4 linked regions of the Homo sapiens genome follow. The protein of the gene in region 2 interacts with the protein of the main gene of each other region in a pairwise test. Each region holds a gene or a part of one and is shown on either strand. Other genes may lie near its edges.

Region 1 (3,508 bases), on a different chromosome or scaffold from region 2:
TCAAAACCTTTCAAAGCCTCTGTACCGCTCAGATTCAAAGGCAGAGTCCTTCCAGTAGCCCTGGAGACCATACCTCATGTGGCTCTTGTTCCTTCTTCTGTCTTGACGCCTCTCTTCCCACTGGCCACCTTACTGTTCTCAAACATGCCAGGGAGGCACCTGCCTCTGTGCTTGCTGATCTCTCTGCCTAGAATGTTCTTGCCCCAGATGTCTGCACGGTGCTCCTCCTTCTCCTTCAGGTCTGCACTCAAATGTCACCTCAGTGAGTCCATCCCCACCTGCCCTTCCACAAGGCTGGGATTTTGGTCTGTTTTGTTTTGTTCAGTGCCCTGTCCTCAGTGCCTAGAACAGAGCCCATGCTAGGTGCTTAATAACTATTGACTAATTGACTGGATCAGCAGATAAATGAATGTATGGGCAAGGCTGGGCTCTTCCTTGGCCAGGGCTCTGATGGATAATTTTTTTTTTTTTTTTTGAGATGGGGGTCTCACTCTGTCACCCAAGCAGGAGTGCAGTGGCGCAATCTTAGCTCGCTGCAATGTCTGCCTCCTGGTCTCAAGAGATCCTCGTGTCTCCTGAGTAGCTGGGATTACAGGCTGATTTTTGTATTTTTAGTAGAGACAGAGTTTCACCATGATGCTCAGGCTAGTCTTTTTTTTTTTTTTGAGACAGAGTGGAGTCTCGCTTTGTTGCCCAGGCTGGAGGCAGTGGTGTGCTCTCAGCTCACTGCAACCTCCGCCTCCCGGGTTCAAGCGATTCTCCTCCCTCAGACTCCCAAATAGCTGGGACTACAGGCATGTGCCACCACACCCAGCTAATTTTTTGTGTGTTTTTAGTAGAGACGGAGTTTCACCATGTTAGCCAGGGTGGTCTCAAACTCCTGACCTCAGGTGATCCGCCCGCCTCGGCCTCCCAAAGTGCTGGGATTACAGGCGTGAGCTACTGCGCCTGGTTTTTTGTTTTTTTTTTTAATTTGAGATGGAGTTTCACTCTTGCTGCCCAGGCTGGAGTACAATGGCGCAATCTCGGTTGACTGCAGCCTCTGCCTCCCGAGTTCAAGCGATTCTCCTGCCTCAGCCTCCTGAGTAGCTGGGATTACAGGCATGCACCACCATGCCCGGCTAATTTTGTATTTTTAGTAGAGACGGGGTTTCTCCATGTTGTTCAGACTGGTCTCGAACTCCCAACCTCAGGTGATCCCCCTGCCTTGGCCTCCCAAAGTGCTGGGGATTACAGGCGTGAGCCACCGTGCCTGGGCCAGGCTAGTTTTGAACTCCTGACCTCAGGTAATCTGCCTGCTTCAGCCTCCCAAAGTGCTGGAATTACAGGCTTGAGCCACTGCATACAGCCTCTGATGAAGATTTGATGAATTAGAATAGGAGAGGCAGGCATGGTGGCTGACGCTTGTAATCCTAGCACTCTGGGAGGCCAAGGTGGGAGGATCGCTTGAAGCCAGGAGTTCCAGACCAACCAGGGCAACATGGCAAAACCTCATCTCAAAAAAAAAAATGCAAAAACTAGCCGGGTGGGGTGGCGAGTGCCTGTAGTCCCAGCTACTTGGGAGGCTGAGGTGGGAGGATCACCAGAACCCAGGCGGTTGAGGCTGCGGTGAGCTGTGATCGTGCCACTGCACTCCAGCCTGAGCGAGAGTAAGACCCTATCTCAAAATTAAAATAAAAAAAGAATTAGAACATATCTTCTTCCCCCTTTCAGACCAAAGCCCAGCAGGGCTGGCTCGTGGCCGGCACGGTGGGCTGCCCAAGCACAGAGGATCCCCAGTCCTCCGAGATCCCCATCATGAGTTGCTTGGAGTTCCTCTGGGAACGGCCTACTCTCCTTGTGCTGGGTAGGTGGATGTCCCTGCGTTTGTGCCCAGATTACATTTCCCGAGCAACTGGGTGTCCAGCTGGGCAACCCTAACCCTCAGCCCCACGCCCTGCAGGGAATGAGGGCTCAGGTCTATCCCAGGAGGTGCAGGCCTCCTGCCAGCTTCTCCTCACCATCCTGCCCCGGCGCCAGCTGCCTCCTGGACTTGAGTCCTTGAACGTCTCTGTGGCTGCAGGTGAGTCTACTCCCCTTTCCCTTTCCTCTATCCCTCTAATCACGCAGGTGGGATTTGATGCCCTCTAATCCCATTTGCTGGCTGTTTGTGTGCCTCAGTTGCTTTATGTACAAAATGGGGAAATTACATCCCGTTGATGAGATGAGGGGCTGCCTGAATGTCTAGGTCTCTAAACATCATCCTTCTCCTCCGTCCTCTCTTCCCTTGTCCTTGTGTCTGTGCAGGAATTCTTCTTCACTCCATTTGCAGCCAGAGGAAGGGTTTCCCCACAGAGGGGGAGAGAAGGCAGCTTCTCCAAGACCCCCAAGAACCCTCAGCCAGGTCTGAAGGGCTCAGCATGGCTCAGCACCCAGGGCTGTCTTCAGGCCCAGAGAAAGAGAGGCAAAATGAGGGCTGACGTGGACTGTCCACAGTGTTCATGTGCTGGAGTCAGGGACGGCCGCACCTGCCTCCGCCGGCTCCAGTGTGCGGGGAGCCTCTGCCTGAGTGTGCACCAGGCCCATGTTTATTGACCACAGTCTGGGGGGGGGGGAAGGGGACTGCGGTGGACACCAGAGGAAGCTGTTTCCTGTTGTGATGTTGGACCTGTAGTAGGACATGGTGATTTGTTAATTTCCATGGGAAGCCATGATGGCCTAGCATGGAGGGAATCTGTTCCCAGGCCCTGCCTGGAAGTTGAGGGAAAGTTTAGACATCTGCAGAGAGGCAGGCAGCCCAGCCCAGGGGACCCGTTCCTCTTGAACCAGTCATTGCCTGTGGCAAATGTGTGTATGAGAATGTGGGGGGTGGAGGGCGGGGCCCTGATGTGGAGTAGACAGTGCGCACCTCAGGCCCACACACGGCCCCGCCCTGGGGCCTTGAGCGCAGGCCTCATCTTTCTGTGCCGCGGGACTCCGCACCTACCTCACAGGGTTGTTGTGAGGCTCAAATAAAACATCACTCAGCACGTGGGAGATTCTGGCCAATTCCTCCGTTAGGTGGCAGCCTCGCTCTTCGGTCCAGTCTTCAGGCAGCTTCCACAGCCTCCTTGCGGGGAGACTCCTGGCTGCAGCCCCATGAGAGGCGACGGGAAATTAGCAAACACCTCCCACCCCACGGGGGCCCCCCACGGGTGACTGAGTCAGTTCCCTTCAAGGGGAGGAACTGGGAGCAGGCTTGCCGTTGATTGTACAACCGAGACAGATTTGGCACTCCTCCCCTCGGGTCCCAGGAAAGCAGCAGGAGCCAGCAGTGTGAGGAGCATAGAAGTGTTTCTGTCCTGGTGGCACATTGGAACCACCTGGCATGCTTTAAAAAACCCAACACTGACACCAGAGAGTCTGACATGATGGGTGTGGCGCCACCTGGCATCCGGCTTTCGAAAGCGCCACCATTGGTCTAATGTGCAGCCAAGGCTGAGAATCACCACTAGGGCAGGTGGACTCAAATTCCACACCCTTGACATTT
Region 2 (5,635 bases):
GGATTGAATCAGTATAGCAAGATATCTGAGAAAAAAAATGTCTGTGAGATCATTGTTTTCTTATTTGCTTTGTTCTAATACTGGACAGCTGAAAAACTCGTTATTTAATGATTCTGATTAACAGAGATTGCTTAGCTTTTTTTAAGAAAGAGCGTAATTGAAGTGTAATTTGCCTACCATACAGTTCACCATTTTAAAGTCTGTAATTGATGTAATACATTCACAGGGTCGTGTAGTCAATTTTAGAACGTTTAGAACCCTCAAAAAGAAACGCTGTACCCTTTAGCAGTTGCCCTTCGTTTCTCCCTGGGCCCCCCAGCCTTAGGCAACTACTGATCTATTTTTTGTCTATAGATTTGCTTGTTCTGGGCGTTTGTTGTAAGTGGAATCATGTGGTCTTTTGTGATTGGCTTTCACTTAGCATAGTGTTTTCAAGGTTCATCCCTGTTGAAGCATGTGCCGGTACTTACTTCCTTTTTATTGCCGAATAACATTCCATTGTGTTGCCAACAGCATTCCACATTTTATTTTTCTATCACGTGGTGGACATTGGGTTGTTTCTACTTTCTGGCTATTGTGACTAATGCCTCTGAACACTCATGTATAAGTTTTTGTGGGGACATAACGTTTTCATTTTTCTTGGGTGTAGATCTTGGAGTGGAAATTGCTGGGTCAAAGCTCTATGTTGAGCTTTATGAGGAGCTGCCAAATTATTTTCTAAGGTGTCTGTACCATTTTACATTTCCACTAGCAATGCATGAGGATTCCGATAACCACATTCTCGGTAATACTTATTACTGTCTTTGTGATTATAGCCATCTTACTGGCTGTGAAATGGTATCTTACTGTGATTATTTTGCTTTTTATTTTCATTATTATTTTTGCTGGGGGCACTCTGAGGAAAACTGGACAGCCTGCTAGACAAATTTGCTTTTTGTTATCTGAGCAGTAGTTCTCACTGTGGTTTGGGGAGTCCCCATACCCTGTTAAGGGTACCATGAGATGAAACTATTTTCATAGTAATTCTGAGATGTTATTTTTATTTTTCAGTCTAATTTTCTCAAAACTGGGCAGTGCACTTGGCTAGAGTCTTTAAGGTGTGGGATATGACAACAGATGTGAAAATCCAGCTGTCTTCTATTACAAGACTAAAGTGATTTCCAAAAATTTAAAATAATGCCACTCTTATCACTGAGAAAATAGTTATTTTTCATAAGGATGTTATTTTTATTAATATATAATGTATTATTTTTAAATGAATTTATTTTTAAAGGTTATTCAGTTTTAATTTGTAATATTATAAATATCAACAGCTATAACCTAAACAAGCAAAACTCTTTGGAGTTCTGAAGTTGTAAAATGGTGTCCTGAGAGCAAAAATTTCTGTGGTGGCGTATTTTATAGATTACGTACTTAAAATATCGGGTAGTGGCTCCAATAAGTTGCCATTACCTCTTGCCTAGAAACTGCAGTAGCCTACTGGTCAGTTGCCTGACTTCTATAACTCTCCCACCAGCCATTCCAAGAGTGATCTCTGAAAAACGTTAATCAGAGCATGCCACCCTCTGTGTAAAGCTAATGGCTCCCTGTTGGTCTTAGAATATATAATGGAGTAGCGAGGCCCTGTGTAATACGGTTCCATGCCCTCTCCATTTTTTGCAGATGCCTTCTTTCTTTGCTTGCTTGGCTGACTACATTGACCTTCTAGTTCCCTGACCTGTTAATACTTTTTTTCCTGCCTGAGGACTTCTGTACAGTTTGTTCTTGCTACCTAGAATGCAAGAACACTCTTTGCCCATTCCTTTTCCATCTTTAAATCTTAATGCAAAGGTCAGTTTCTCCAGGTAGTATCTATTTCTGATTGTCCAGACTGGATTGGGATCCCCTGTTGGATTTCTCACAGTAGCCTGTTTTTGATAAGAATTCATCACAACTAAAAATTGTATATTTATGTGATTCCTTCTCTTTAGAGAGGGGCTGTGATTGTTCACCATTGTGTTACCAGAGCCTAGGGCTCAATAAATTATTTACAGATGAATCTAGTCCATTATGTACAATAATACATATTCAGTAATAACTACTTATTGTTGAACCTTTACTGAGTGTAGTATGTACATAATCTGGTAGCTCCCAGTCCTTTTGTGGAAGCTTCCTCTTAAGCTGTTCCCCCCAGGTCACCACTCTCCAGGCACAACTCTTGACTGCTTCATGATGTTCACTCTTGCTTCTCTGCCTGGAACATTACTCTTCTAGAACCACCTTTCTTAGCTGGAGATTCTCATCTGAACCACAGAGCACAGAAAGTGATATGAATAGCTATCCATTTCTTTTCAAAGATGGTTCATAATGAATATAATTTTAGATGTATAGGAGAGAAGTTAATTCATTACATAGTGAGTGGTTTGTTGGTAAATGCTGGTTTATCAACCCGTTCTTCAGGAAAAACACTGATTTGTAGTGTTTGCTGGATTTCCATGATGTAAATATTCTCACTGTGGCAGATTTCAAGATACCGTTATTAAACTGGCTCACAAAATTTATGAAAATTTAAGAGCCATTGCTTATAATGGGTGCCTTAGGGCAGAGGCCAGCAAACTGGTAGTCGAAATCTATTGTGCCCATTTGCTTATGTGTTATCTATAGCTCCTTTCAGAATAGACCATGTGGCTGGTAGAGCCAAAAATATTTACTGTCTAGCCCGTAACAGAAAGTTTGCTTACCCTGGTATTAGGGCTTCCTGTTAATATATCTTGTTCATCAAAACACTTCTCATTGGAAATTTTTACCATGACTTATTTTTTATAGAAATACAATGTGAGCTGGGCTCAGTGGTTCATGCTTGTAATCCCAACACTTTGCGGGGCCAAGGTGGCAGGATTGCTTGAGCACCATGGCTCAGTGATCATGGCTCACTGCAGCCCCCACCTCCTGGAGTTCGAGACCAGCCTGTCTACAAAAAAATAAAAATTTAGCTAGGTGTGGTGGCACACACCTGTAGTCCCAGCTAGTCCAGCAAGGTTGAGCCCAGGAGTTTGGAGGTTACACTGAGCTATGATTGCACCGCAGCATTCCAGCTGTGGTGACAGAATGAGACTTGGTCTCTTAAAAACAAAAAACAGTATGAGCCACATATGTAATTTTCCTATTAGCCACTTTAATCAAAAGGAAGGACTGAAGTCAATTTTTCAATAGTGGTGACTCACACATAACAAAATTTATCATGTTAACCATTTTTAAGGGTTCACTTCAGTGACATTAAGTACATTCACATTGTTGTACAATTGTTACCACCATCCGTTTCCAGAACTCATCTTGCAAAACTGAAACCCTGGACCGTTTAAACAGTAACTCCCCATTTTCCCCATTCCCCCACCTCTAGCAACCACCATTCTTCTTTCTGTCTCTGAATTTGACTACTCTAGGTATTTCATATAAGTGGAATAAGACAGTGTTTGGCCTTTTGTGATTAACTTATTTCCCTTAGTATAACGTCCACAAGGTTCATTTATGTTGTAGCATGTGTCAGAATTTACTTTTTTTTTTTTTTTTGAGACAGGTCTCACTTTGTCACCCAGGCTGGAGTGCAGTGGCACAATCATGGCTTGCTGCAGCCTCCACCTCCTGAAGTTCAAGTGATCCTCCTGCCTTAGCCCCCCAAGTAGCTGGGACTGCAAGCTCACATCACCATGCTTGGCTACTTTGTATTTTTTTGTAGAGACAGGGTTTCACCATGTTGCCCAGGTTGGTCTCAAACTCCTGAGCTCAAGCGATCTGCCCCCTTGGTCTCCCAAAATGCTAGGATTATACAAGTGTGAGCCACCGCACCCAGCCAGAATTTACTGTGTATGACTGAATAATATTCCATTATATGTATGTACCACATTTTAAAAATCCATTGATCTGTTGCTGGTCGCTTGGGTTGCTTCCACCTTTTGGCTATTGTAATTTTAATATGCTTTATTTAACCCAGTATGTCTAAAATATTTTAAGGTGCAATTGATATAAAGACTATAAAATATCTTGCATTTTGAAATACTAAGTCTTTGAAATATATTTTGTAATTTACACTTAAGCATACCTCAGTTTGAAGTAGCCACATTTCAGGTGCTTAATAGCCATATGTAGCTAGTGACTGCTGAATTAGCACAGCTAATAAAGCTTTCAGGATGTGCTTCCACCTGCCTTTTCTCCTGTTTTCATTGCATTTCAGCCAGTTTGTATTGTCTCTTCCCCTACCCTCAAATATCACTGGCTCTTTCTTCCCCTTTTTGAACCTTTGCAAATGCTGTTAATGACAATGACATAATGGCCAATATTTATTGCAGGCATGATTTATAAGGCATGATGCATTATATTTTTTTAAAATGTCACATAACTTTATGATGAAAGCACTATTATTATCCTTTTTTTAAAAAATGAAGATGCTGGCCAGGCATGGTGGCTCATGCTGCTAATCCCGGCACTCTGGGAGGCCGAGGCGGGTGGATCACATGAGGTCAGGAGTTTGAGACCAGCCTGACCAACATGGAGAAACCCCGTCTCTACTAAAGATACAAGATTTGCCAGGTGTGGTGGTGCATGCCTGTAATCCCCAGCTACTCGGAAGGCTGAGGCGGGAGAATCGCTTGAACCTGGGAGGTGGAGGTTGCAGTGAGCTGAATCGTGCCATCGCACTCCAGCCTGTGGGATAAGAGTGAGACTTCGTCTCAAAAAAAAAAAAAAAAAAAAGGGTACAAAAAATAGCCGCGTGTGGTGGTGCATGCCTGTAGTCCCAGCTACTTGGGAAGCTGAGGTGGAAGAATCTCTTGAATCTGCGAGGCAGAGGTTGCAGTGAGCTGAGATCTTGCCACTGCAGTCCAGCCTGGGCGACAGAGGGAAACTGTCTTTTTTTTTTTTTTTTTTTTTTTTTTGAGACAGTGTCTTGCACTGTTGCCCCGGCTGGAGTGCAGTGGTGCAATCTCAGCTCACTGCAACCTCCGCCCCCTGGGTTCACACAATTCTCTTGCCTCAGCCTCCTGAGTAGCTGGGATTACAGGTGCACACCACCACACCCAGCTAATTTTTTGTATTTTTAGTAGAGACGGGGTTTCATTATGTTGGCCAGACTGGTCTTGGACTCCTGACCTCATGATTCGCCTGCCTTTGCCTCCCAAAGTGCTGGAATTACAGGCGTGAGCCACCGCGCCTGGCCTATGTCTTAAAAAAAAAAAAAAAAACCAGAAGATACTGAGACTCATATTAATAATGTGATCAAATTCATACACATATTAAGTAGTAGACTGTAGATTCAAACCCAGTACAAACTTGGGAGGCCTCACCGATCCACTGCCCCAAACTGCCTTGACTTTCCTTTGACTGGCTTTTCAGTCTTTAAAGTTCATTGAATAGCTAGGTGTGGTGGTGCAAGCCTGTAGTCCCAGCTAATTGGGAGGCTGAGGTGGGAGAATTACTTGAGCCCAAGAGTTCCACGCCAGCCTGGGCAACATAGCAATACTCTGTATCTTTTTTTAAGAAGTTTATTTAAATATTAGTTCATCAGAGGGTAATTGGACTCATCAGTCTATGTCAGATCATTGATTATAATCTCTGATAATATTTTGTGATTATATGGATTGTCTCCTTCACCCAGCCCCCC
Region 3 (5,270 bases), on a different chromosome or scaffold from region 2:
AGATGCTGGTGAAAATGGGGAGAAAAGGGAACTCTGATATGCTGTTGGGTAAACTAGCACAGCTGCTATGGAGAATAACATGGAGGTTCCTCAGAAAACTACAAGTAGAACTACTCACATGATCTAGCAATCCCATTACTTAAAATCTATCCAAAGGAAAGGAAATCATTATATCAAAGAGAAATCTGCACCCTCATGTTTATAGCTGCACTATTCAGAATAGCCAATATGGAATTGACCTATGTGTCCAACAATAGATGAATGAATAAGGAAAACGTGGTATATGTACACAATGGAATGCTATTTGGCCATAAAAAAAAATGAAATCCTGTCATTTGCAGCAACTTGGATGGAATTGGAGGATATTAAGTGAAATAAGCCAGGCACAGAAAGATAAACACCACATGTTCTCAGTCACATGTGGAACCTAGAAAAAGTTGATGTAATAGAAGTAAAAGGTAGAACAGAGGATGCTAGAGGCTGGGAAGGGGAGGGGAAGGTGGTGATAGGGAGGGATTTGTTAAAGGATTCAAGATTATAGCCAGATGGGAGGACTAAGTACTAGGGTTTCACACCACTGTAGGTTGACTACAGTTAACAATAATAGACCAGGCATGGTGGCTCATGCCTGTAATCCCAGCACTTTGGGAGGCCAAGGTGGGCAGATTGCTTGAGCTCAGGAGCTCGAGAACATGGTGAAACCCCCACTCTACTAAAATACAAAAAAATTGCCGGGCTTGGTGGTGTGTGCCTGTAATCCCAGCTATTTGGGAGGCTGAGGCAGGAAAACTGCTTGACCCAGGAGGTGGAGGTTGCAGTGAGCTGAGATGGTGCCACTGCACTCCAGCCTGGGTGACAGAGCAAGACTCCGTCACACACACACACAAAATAATAATAGTAATAATATATAGTTTCAAATAGCTAGAGGGAGGATTGAACCTTCCCAACACAAAGAAATGATAAATGTTTGAGATGATGGATATGCTAATTACCCTAATCTGAAATTATACATTGTATGTATGAAACATGACTGTGCACCCTATGAATATGTACAATTATTATTTGTTAATTAAAATAATACAACTTTAAAACACATGGTCTTAAACATTATCGTTTTTGCACACTCTGAAGCATATATTTTGCATCCTGACATCATGTCATAAGTGAAAAGATAAGAGACTTTCATTATTACTGCTCCAAATGCATGAATGCTCAATAACCTGTGATCTATTTTTCATAATTCACATTTATAAAAAGTAACTTTGGAACTTCAGTCATTGTCAGCTAGCAGACAGTTTTTCCTGCTCCACAATTAAATAAGTCAGTATTCTTGGAAGTATTGTACAAGTTGTTTGGGAGCTCCCTACACATTGCCACTGGATAAGAAGACCTGAAACCCAGCCATGTGTGATGGCTTACACATATAATCCCAGCATTTTGGGAGGCCGAGGCGGGCAGATCACCTGAGGTCAGGAGTTCGAGACCAGCATGGCCAACATGGTGAAACCCCGTCTTTACTAAAAATACAAAAATTAGCTGGACATGGTGGCATACACCTGTGGTCCCAGCTACTCAGTAGGCTGAGGCAGGAGAATCACTGGAACCTGGGGCGGGTAGGCTGCAGTGAGCCAAGATGGTGCCACTACACTCCAGCCTGGGTGACAGAGCGAAACTCTTTCTCAAAAACAAACAAACAAATAAAAACCCTGAAACTTGTCTTTCAGCAGAGGGATTTTAGTGAGTTAGTATCAAGGGGTCATCACTTCCTTTTCTTCTTGGATAGCTGACACAAGACAGGAAGACTAAGGGCTCTTTCTGATATCTGAAGATCCCTTTCAGGAAACCCATTCTGTTGTGTTTCTTAAGGTGTGATAAAGCTTGTCCAGCCTCCACACCGTATAAAGTTCTCCTTTATACACCCATGTATCAGCAGAGCTGCCCTGTAGGTAGGATTCTTACTCCCACGTGGCCAGTGAGTAGCAAGCAAGGCCCCAAGTAAGGTCTTTGGGTGCTGTCTGTTCTTTCATGAGAGTCACTTTGATATGAGAAAGGGGTTGGGGAAAGATGCCTGAGTCTGGGCGTGGGCTGGGAGGGAAGCACATTTAGGGTGCTGAAACCACATCTTATTTCGTGTGCCATTTTGCTCAGGGCCAGCCCGAAGTGAGAATGGCTTTTCTCGGTCAATTCCTAGTTTTGCCACCATCATCCTTACACCCGAATCCTAGTAAGTCTGTTCTCCACTGAACTGAGCTGAGTGCAGCTGACAGCAGGCACGGCGGTGCCCCATTTGCCACCCCAGGGAGGCCGAGCAGCGGAGAGTGTGTGGCCACGGCCCCTCCACTCTCCCAGCAAACCCACGGGGGCCTCGGTGCGGACAGAGACCCGGTGTGGGGAGGCCGCTGCCCCTGCACGCTGGGCCACGGGGGTTTGGGCGGGGAGGAGCTTGTACTGGGTGGGCGGGGAGGAGCCCGGACGGCGGGAGCGGCTGCGGCGCGCGGGCGCCCTCGGAGCCGCGTGCTGGGGGTCGTAGGGGCCCACCGCGCTCAGCCAGACGTTCAGACGCTCGGACAAGCATGGTCTATAACCCAGGAAAGGGGAGCAGGGCCACTCCCGCGGGCGGCCCCAGCGATGAACCGGACGCCCCCACCCTGCCGGGAAAAAAGCAGTGGCGGTCAGGCCGCGCTGTCTCTTTAAGATCGTGTTCCTACTAACACTGACGGTGAGTAACCTGGCCCTGGGTCCCGGGAGACATCCCGAGGTAGGATGGGCCCTTGGCCTCCTACGGATAGGCGGGTGAGAGTACAAATCTCTGGGCGTGGAATTTGGGGAAGTTATGAATGGGGGGAGGGTCGGGTTCCGATTTGAGCCAAAGCCCCCAGGTACCTTGTACATTTTAACAGGGCTCCTAGAGAGGGCGGGGAGACGAAGCAAGGCCAAGTTCCAAAGGGAGGATAGGCCCAGCTGGCTTCAGCGTCCACACGGCATAGTCCTTCATGAATGTTGGTAAGCGCGGTAGCTTGTGAATTAGGGTGAGTGGCAGAAGCTCGGGCTTCACGGGTGGGTGGGGAGGCAGTGGAACTGACCACTGCCGGCTGTCAGGTAGGCCTTGGGCACCTGGTTCTGCAGACAGTTTTCTGAACTAAGAAGTGAAGCTAGCCTGCCCACACACGGGGTATCCACTAGCCCCTTAGGAGCAGAGAGGGCACCGTAGCAAGCAGCTGGCGGCACTGTGCCTCTCTTGCGCTCCCTGGGCAGAGAGGGAGAGGCTGAGTGATGAGGCTCACTTCATACTGGGTGAGCAGAATGAAGACTGTGAAGTCACAGAGGAAGTGGAATGCTACAACTGGCTGCCGGGGCAGAGGAAAGGTGTCACCCAGGCAGGTTCAGGGCTTTCTGGCTATAAAAGGGAGCCTCTGGGATCAGCAGGTCATATCTGGTGCCCATGGTTGACTGAGGAGTCGGGTGAGGCCACCCTACCACAAGGGTCCCCCTCCCCATCCTACACAGGAATGAAAACAGTCCCATGTACACTTTCTGGAAGCCTAAATACCACCCACACCATGTGGAAGGAAAGCAGGAGAGAGACTGAGTGGCACATCCTTTCGCCCTCTTTTCTCTCGAACCTCCTCCCAGGCCGACCACCCTTGCTGTGTCCAAGCCAAGCTCTGTGGGCTTTCTGTTCCTCCTGAGTAGCTGATTTTCAGAATTTGGGGTACCAGGGCTCTGGGGAATGTGAGCTAGAGAGCAGATAAGTCTGGAAGATGACCACTGACTCCTACTCTCCTACTTCTCCAGATGCAGAGGCCTCCATGGCTGTGATAAGCCTGCTGTTCTTGGCAGTGATGTATGTTGTTCACCACCCTCTGATGGTCAGTGATCGGATGGACCTGGACACATTAGCCAGGAGTCGGCAGCTGGAGAAGCGAATGAGTGAGGAGATGCGCCTGCTAGAGATGGAGTTTGAAGAGAGAAAGCGAGCCGCTGAGCAGAGGCAGAAGGCAGAGAACTTCTGGACAGGAGACACATCCAGTGACCAGTTAGTGCTGGGGAAGAAAGACATGGGGTGGCCGTTCCAGGCCGATGGCCAGGAAGGGCCTCTGGGCTGGATGCTGGGAAACCTGTGGAACACTGGCCTCTTTTGCCTTTTTCTCGTCTTTGAGCTCCTGCGACAGAACATGCAGCATGAACCGGCCTTTGATTCCAGCAGTGAGGAGGAGGAGGAGGAAGTCCGTGTTGTCCCTGTCACCTCTTACAACTGGCTTACTGACTTCCCCTCCCAGGAGGCCCTGGACTCCTTTTACAAACACTATGTCCAAAATGCCATCCGTGACCTGCCCTGCACCTGTGAGTTTGTGGAGAGTTTTGTGGATGATCTCATTGAGGCCTGTCGGGTGCTCAGCCGCCAAGAGGCTCACCCACAATTGGAAGACTGCCTGGGCATCGGGGCTGCCTTTGAGAAATGGGGAACCCTCCATGAGACCCAGAAATTTGATATCCTGGTGCCCATTGTCCCCCCACAGGGCACCATGTTTGTCCTGGAGATGAGGGACCCAGCCCTGGGCCGCCGCTGTGGCTGTGTGCTGGTGGAGTCAGAATGTGTGTGCAAGCGTGAGAAACTCCTAGGGGACGTGCTGTGCCTGGTGCACCACCACAGGGACCCCTCGGCAGTCTTGGGGAAGTGTAGTAGCTCCATCAAGGCAGCTCTCTGCACCGGCTTCCACCTAGACGTGTGCAAGACTGTGCAGTGGTTCCGGAACATGATGGGCAATGCCTGGGCCCTTGTGGCCCACAAGTATGACTTTAAACTCAGTCTCCCACCGTCTACCACCTCCTGCAAGCTCCGGCTGGACTATCGCTCAGGCCGCTTTCTCTCAATCCACTTGGTCCTGGGGGTGCAACGAGAAGACACCTTGGTCTACCTGGTGAGTCAGGCTCCTGACCAGGAGCAGCTCACCAGTGTGGACTGGCCTGAGTCCTTTGTGGCCTGTGAGCACCTGTTCCTGAAGCTGGTGGGGCGCTTTGCCCCCGAGAACACCTGTCACCTCAAGTGCCTCCAGATCATTTTAAGTCTCCGGCAGCATCAGAGCTTACCCCATGGAGCATCCCGCCCCATCCTCACTTCTTACCATTTTAAAACAGCTCTCATGCACCTCTTGCTACGGCTGCCCCTCACGGACTGGGCCCACAACATGCTCTCTCAGCGGCTCCAGGACATTCTCTGGTTCTTGGGCCGTGGCCTCCAGCAAAGGTCCCTCCATCATTTCCTCATT
Region 4 (4,567 bases), on a different chromosome or scaffold from region 2:
TCAAATTCTACCTTCTCCACACCACATAGACTGTATGTAATGTAAATGTAGAGAAATTATTACTCCATAGCTTTATTTTCATCTTTTTATGGAGATAACAATAGCATTTATCTGGTAGGGTTTTGGAGAAGGTTTCATTAGAATGGCTCTTGTACCAGCCAGCTTTTTCTAGGTTATATGGCCATAAAAATGGATCTAAAATATGAATAGCTTATACTTACAGAAGTTTATTTCTCATTCATATTTATGTTCATCATGGATTTTTAAATCCTGTCCACAAAAGTAAATTATAGTTTGGGATTCTGCTAAACTGTAGATATTACCCTCTGCTAGGGGAGAAAAGATTAATATTTATGTGTTTGTCATATGGTCCTCTTAAGAATAAAATTAAAGTGATGAATGCTTCTTTTAATCTTTCCAGGGAAGGTGGTCTATGGTGAACCCATAGCAGCCAGTCTTGGCACAGATGGCACTCACTACTGGAATAAAGAATGGCACCATGCAGCCCACCATGTCATGGGTCCACCTTTGCGACCAGACCCCTCAACACCCGACTTCCTCATGAATCTGTTGGCTAAGTAATCATTTTGCAGATGACTGGGAAGTGTATTGCCAAAAGAAGGTTTGGGTAGAAGGGAGCTCGTCCTCCCATCTGGATCCTCCACTAACCTCCCAGTATTCTCTTCTACTTGACCTGTCAGGTCCTGGGTACCCCTCACCTGCAGAGCAAAAAACATTGACTTAATTATGCTGTGATATGTTGTCAAAGCCTTTCCTAGACTCTCAGAAATCAGATCGTTTTCACTGAAACTTTACTCTTTTCTGACTTTTTTCATCTCTTGTTGCCCAAACCCAGGGCTCTTCATTACACCTTACTTTTTATCAGAATATTGTTGAATTTTTTTCTATGCTGATATAATATGGGAACTAGGTTAACCCTGTTACTTTCTGGGAACATATGATCATTTTTCTTGAAAATTCTACCATTCTTGGGCCAGATGCAGTGGCTCATGCTTGTAATCCCAGCACTTTGGGAGGCTGAGGTGGGCGGATCACATGAGGCCAGGAGTTTGAGACAAGCCTGGTGAACATGGCAAATCCCCATCTCTACTAAAAATACAAAAATTGGCTGGGCGTGGTGGCTTATGCCTGTAATCCCAGTTACTCGGGAGGCTGAGGCACGAGAATCACTTGAACCCAGGAGGCAGAGGTTGCAGTGAGCAGAGATAGTGCCACTGCACTCCAACCTGAGTGACAGAGCAAGACTCTGTCTCGAAAAAAAAAAGAAAAGAGAAAAGAAAATTCTATCCTTCATGGACATCCCGACACTCCCCATTCACAGATACTCAGTCTCAAGCTAAGAGTTTTTCATGACAGACCGTACAAGAGTTCACTTACCCATTCTTTTCAGCTTCCTTCCTCCTTCATGATTCAGCATCCCCAAGATTACTCACAAGTCAAAGCAGGATTCCTGTCCCTGGTAATATCAGCATCGCCAGCCAGTCTCACCCTCTGTTCATCCCAGTGTGGCCGTGTGGCTAGGGACTGCCCCGGAGGGCCTGCCCTCCATTCATGAGGATCACCATGGTGATGTCTTTGTGGATGCAGCATTCTGCTCACAAGGAGTTTTCTCTCACATATTTGCTGGTGATTCTGAAGTTATCTTCATCAAGTACATGTGACTATTCATTTCTAGATGAGAAATGGAGTCTCGGACAAGCTCATATCACAGAGCTAGTTAAGTGATGGAGCTGAGCTTAGAACTCAGGTTTCCTAACCCATCTTGGATCATGCTTCCGATCAGTGTGTCCTCTGAAAGTGCTTCCTAGAATAGAGACAGGAGAGGGATGAAATATGTTCTTGAAAAAACTGCTCATTCTCCATTGGATTTTTCTGACTTCAATTGAGAAGGGAGCCAGGAGATTAGGAAAGGTTATGGCAGTTTCCTCCTAACATATTCTGTATACTCACCCCATCACTCTCGTGTTTTTTCTTTTACAGTGATGATCTAACCACAACAGGGACTGATAACTGCACTTTCAACACCTGCCAGAAAGCTCTTGGGAAGGATGATTTTACCAAGATCCCCAATGGGGTGAATGGTGTTGAAGATCGGATGTCCGTAATATGGGAAAAAGGCGTGGTGGGTTTCACAGGTTCCAGCCTTGCTTTGCCTAGTTCTTCAGCCAGGATCCTGCCCATTTGAGGACCAGAGTGGCACAAATTTTCATAGAGAAGCTTTTTGATTGTTTTTACTAGGGAGGATACTAGGAATGCAATACTATCACCTCGACCACCATTCCATCCCTCAGTATAGCATCAGCAAAGAAATAATCTTCTCTGCATAGTTTATTTTAGTTTAGACGATGCATCGCACTATTTTGCGGAGACATTAGAGGATGAATTAAGATTGCATACAAAGAGGGTTATTCTTCAATTCTCTGAAATGGCATAGCCCTTCTGCTTGATTTCTCATGCTCTTGAATTCCAGTGCGTCATGTGTCATTGGCACGAATGCTTGAAATGATAAAAAATACACGAAGGGGCAGGGTGCAGTGGCTCACACCTGTAATCCCAGCACTTTGGGAGGCCAAGGCAGGTGGATCACTTGAGGTCAGGAGTTCAAGACCAACCTGGCTAACATGGTGAAACCCCATCTCTACTAAAAATACAAAAGTTAGCCGGGCATGGTGGCACGTGGCTGTAATCCCAGCTACTCAGGAGGCTGAGGCAGGAGAATTGCTTGAACTTGTGAGGCAGAGGTTGTGGTGAGTCAAGATGGCACCATTGCACTCTAGCCTGGGGCAACACAGTGAGACTCCATCACAAAAAAAAAAAAATACACGAAGCGTATTCGTTATGCTCATACCTCCTTTCCATGAAATCTTTGTTGATGTCAGTTCTTTTTTTTTTTTTTTTTTTGAGACGGAGTCTCACTCTGTTGCCCGGACTGGAGTGCAGTGGTGCAATCTTGGCTCACTGCAACCTCCACCTCCTGGGTTCAAGTGATTCTCCTGCCTCAGCCTCCCAAGTAGCTGGGATTACAGATGTGCACCACCATGACTGGCAAATTTTTGTATTTTTAATAGAGAGGGGGTTTCACCATGTTGGCCAGGCTGGTTTCAAACTCCTGACCTCAGGTGATCCACCCGCCTTCGCCTCCCGAAGTGTTGGGATTGACAGGCGTGAGCCACCGTGCCCAGCCTGATGTCACTTCTTAAAGAATCCTTGGATATCATGTTTTTAAAATTGCTATATGAAGTCACAAAAGTAATAATTTAAAGTCTGGAAAAAAATTTAAATGTCCATGACTACAAAACTTCTCCCTGAGGACGGAGAAGAATCACATGACTAAATGTCTATGTGTTAACTTGTCCAGCCAGTTGACATGTGGAGCTGTGAAGACTAGCAGAGGGGACTTGCCTGGTTAGACTTCTGGTCCCCAGTGTCATGCCCTTTTCACCCATCTCCTAGGATGCCTCCCTCAAATGACACATTAATTATATCTCACACTTCAGAATCCTCTTCAATTGCTTTTACCCTACACATACCACCTACTTCTAACTCTAATGAATTATTCACCAAGTCTTGTCAATTTTGTTTCCAAAGGGCCTCCTTATTTCTTTCTTCGTTGCTACCATTCTAGTTGGAGGCTCATATTTTGTTTGGACCTTTGCAGTAATCTCACAGCTGGTCCCCATCTCCAGAGTCTCACTTGCTACAGTGTATTCTTTACTCCAGTACAAGAACTCTTGTTCTGTACTGAGAACAGCTGACAATGCTTTTATTATTATTTTTACAATATTATAGAGGGAGGATAGGTTTTGAATGGGAGTTCTCATTTAGAAATAAAGTTCTGTTTGTGCTATTGTTCTCTCAAAAACCCTTTACTTGCCTCCATTACTTATTGGATGATAGTTGAATCATTAACTTACAATTAGATCTTCAAAACATCTCTATAGCCTCATCTTCTGCTGATTATTTTCCTCACCCCCCTTCCTCCACCCTAACTCTAACCATCCCAGATGACTTCTCTTCACTTAGATTTTCTTGATAAAAGTTCAAGCTTCCACTTGAACTTCTGTTTTACAATGAATATCTTTATTATAGCAGATTTTCATAATCTATATAGTTCCCTGGTATATAAATGGCTTTACAGTGACTGAATAGTTCTTAATAATATATAGAAAACCATGTCATTTTATGAAACATTAATATGGTTTACTTATGGGAATATTACTTTCAGGGCATGGTTCTTAGTCATTTTTAAGGCAAGCATTGTTTGATAATTAAATAAACCTTTAGTACCCTCTTACCATATAAATAGGGATAAACCCCTAACACTTTCCAATTTTATTTTAGAGGAGCCACACCCCTCTGAATTCTGTCCACATTAAAATCTCTTGCAATAGACTATCCATAATTGTTGGTTCATGTAAAACTTCAATTGCATAAAATTGAACCTCTTGAGTTGTTTTTTTATCTTTTCAAAAGGATTGCATCTGGGTGTGGTGGCTTATGCCTGTAATCCTAACACTTTGGGGAGGCTAAGGCAGGTGGATTGCCT

Evidence for each region. Proteins that work in one complex are often made in the same cells at the same time.
Region 1: the proteins of UBQLN1 (region 2) and MRM1 interact in binary tests that used the Homo sapiens proteins (3 or more experiments, as listed by UniProt).
Region 3: the proteins of UBQLN1 (region 2) and ITPRIPL1 interact in binary tests that used the Homo sapiens proteins (3 or more experiments, as listed by UniProt).
Region 4: the proteins of UBQLN1 (region 2) and DPYS interact in binary tests that used the Homo sapiens proteins (3 or more experiments, as listed by UniProt).

The regions. Positions count from the first base shown.
Region 1 is NC_000017.11:36,605,957-36,609,464, forward strand, and holds the end of MRM1 (rRNA methyltransferase 1, mitochondrial precursor), read left to right. Parts: intron 1-1,713; coding exon 1,714-1,846; intron 1,847-1,942; coding exon 1,943-2,062; intron 2,063-2,286; coding exon 2,287-2,459; 3' UTR 2,460-3,008; downstream 3,009-3,508. UniProt on the Homo sapiens protein: S-adenosyl-L-methionine-dependent 2'-O-ribose methyltransferase that catalyzes the formation of 2'-O-methylguanosine at position 1145 (Gm1145) in the 16S mitochondrial large subunit ribosomal RNA (mtLSU rRNA), a universally conserved modification in the peptidyl transferase domain of the mtLSU rRNA.
Region 2 is NC_000009.12:83,696,827-83,702,461, reverse strand, and holds part of UBQLN1 (ubiquilin-1), read left to right. Parts: intron 1-5,635. UniProt on the Homo sapiens protein: Plays an important role in the regulation of different protein degradation mechanisms and pathways including ubiquitin-proteasome system (UPS), autophagy and endoplasmic reticulum-associated protein degradation (ERAD) pathway.
Region 3 is NC_000002.12:96,322,847-96,328,116, forward strand, and holds the start of ITPRIPL1 (inositol 1,4,5-trisphosphate receptor-interacting protein-like 1), read left to right. Parts: upstream 1-2,470; 5' UTR 2,471-2,719; exon of another isoform or gene 2,720-2,900; 5' UTR 2,901-2,993; coding exon 2,994-3,003; intron 3,004-3,350; exon of another isoform or gene 3,351-3,761; coding exon of another isoform or gene 3,762-3,795; coding exon 3,796-5,270. UniProt on the Homo sapiens protein: Functions as a ligand of CD3E, inhibiting TCR-CD3 complex signaling to regulate T cell activation.
Region 4 is NC_000008.11:104,425,556-104,430,122, reverse strand, and holds part of DPYS (dihydropyrimidinase), read left to right. Parts: exon of another isoform or gene 1-421; coding exon 422-578; exon of another isoform or gene 579-719; intron 720-1,398; exon of another isoform or gene 1,399-1,825; intron 1,826-2,001; coding exon 2,002-2,143; intron 2,144-4,567. UniProt on the Homo sapiens protein: Catalyzes the second step of the reductive pyrimidine degradation, the reversible hydrolytic ring opening of dihydropyrimidines. Can catalyze the ring opening of 5,6-dihydrouracil to N-carbamyl-alanine and of 5,6-dihydrothymine to N-carbamyl-amino isobutyrate.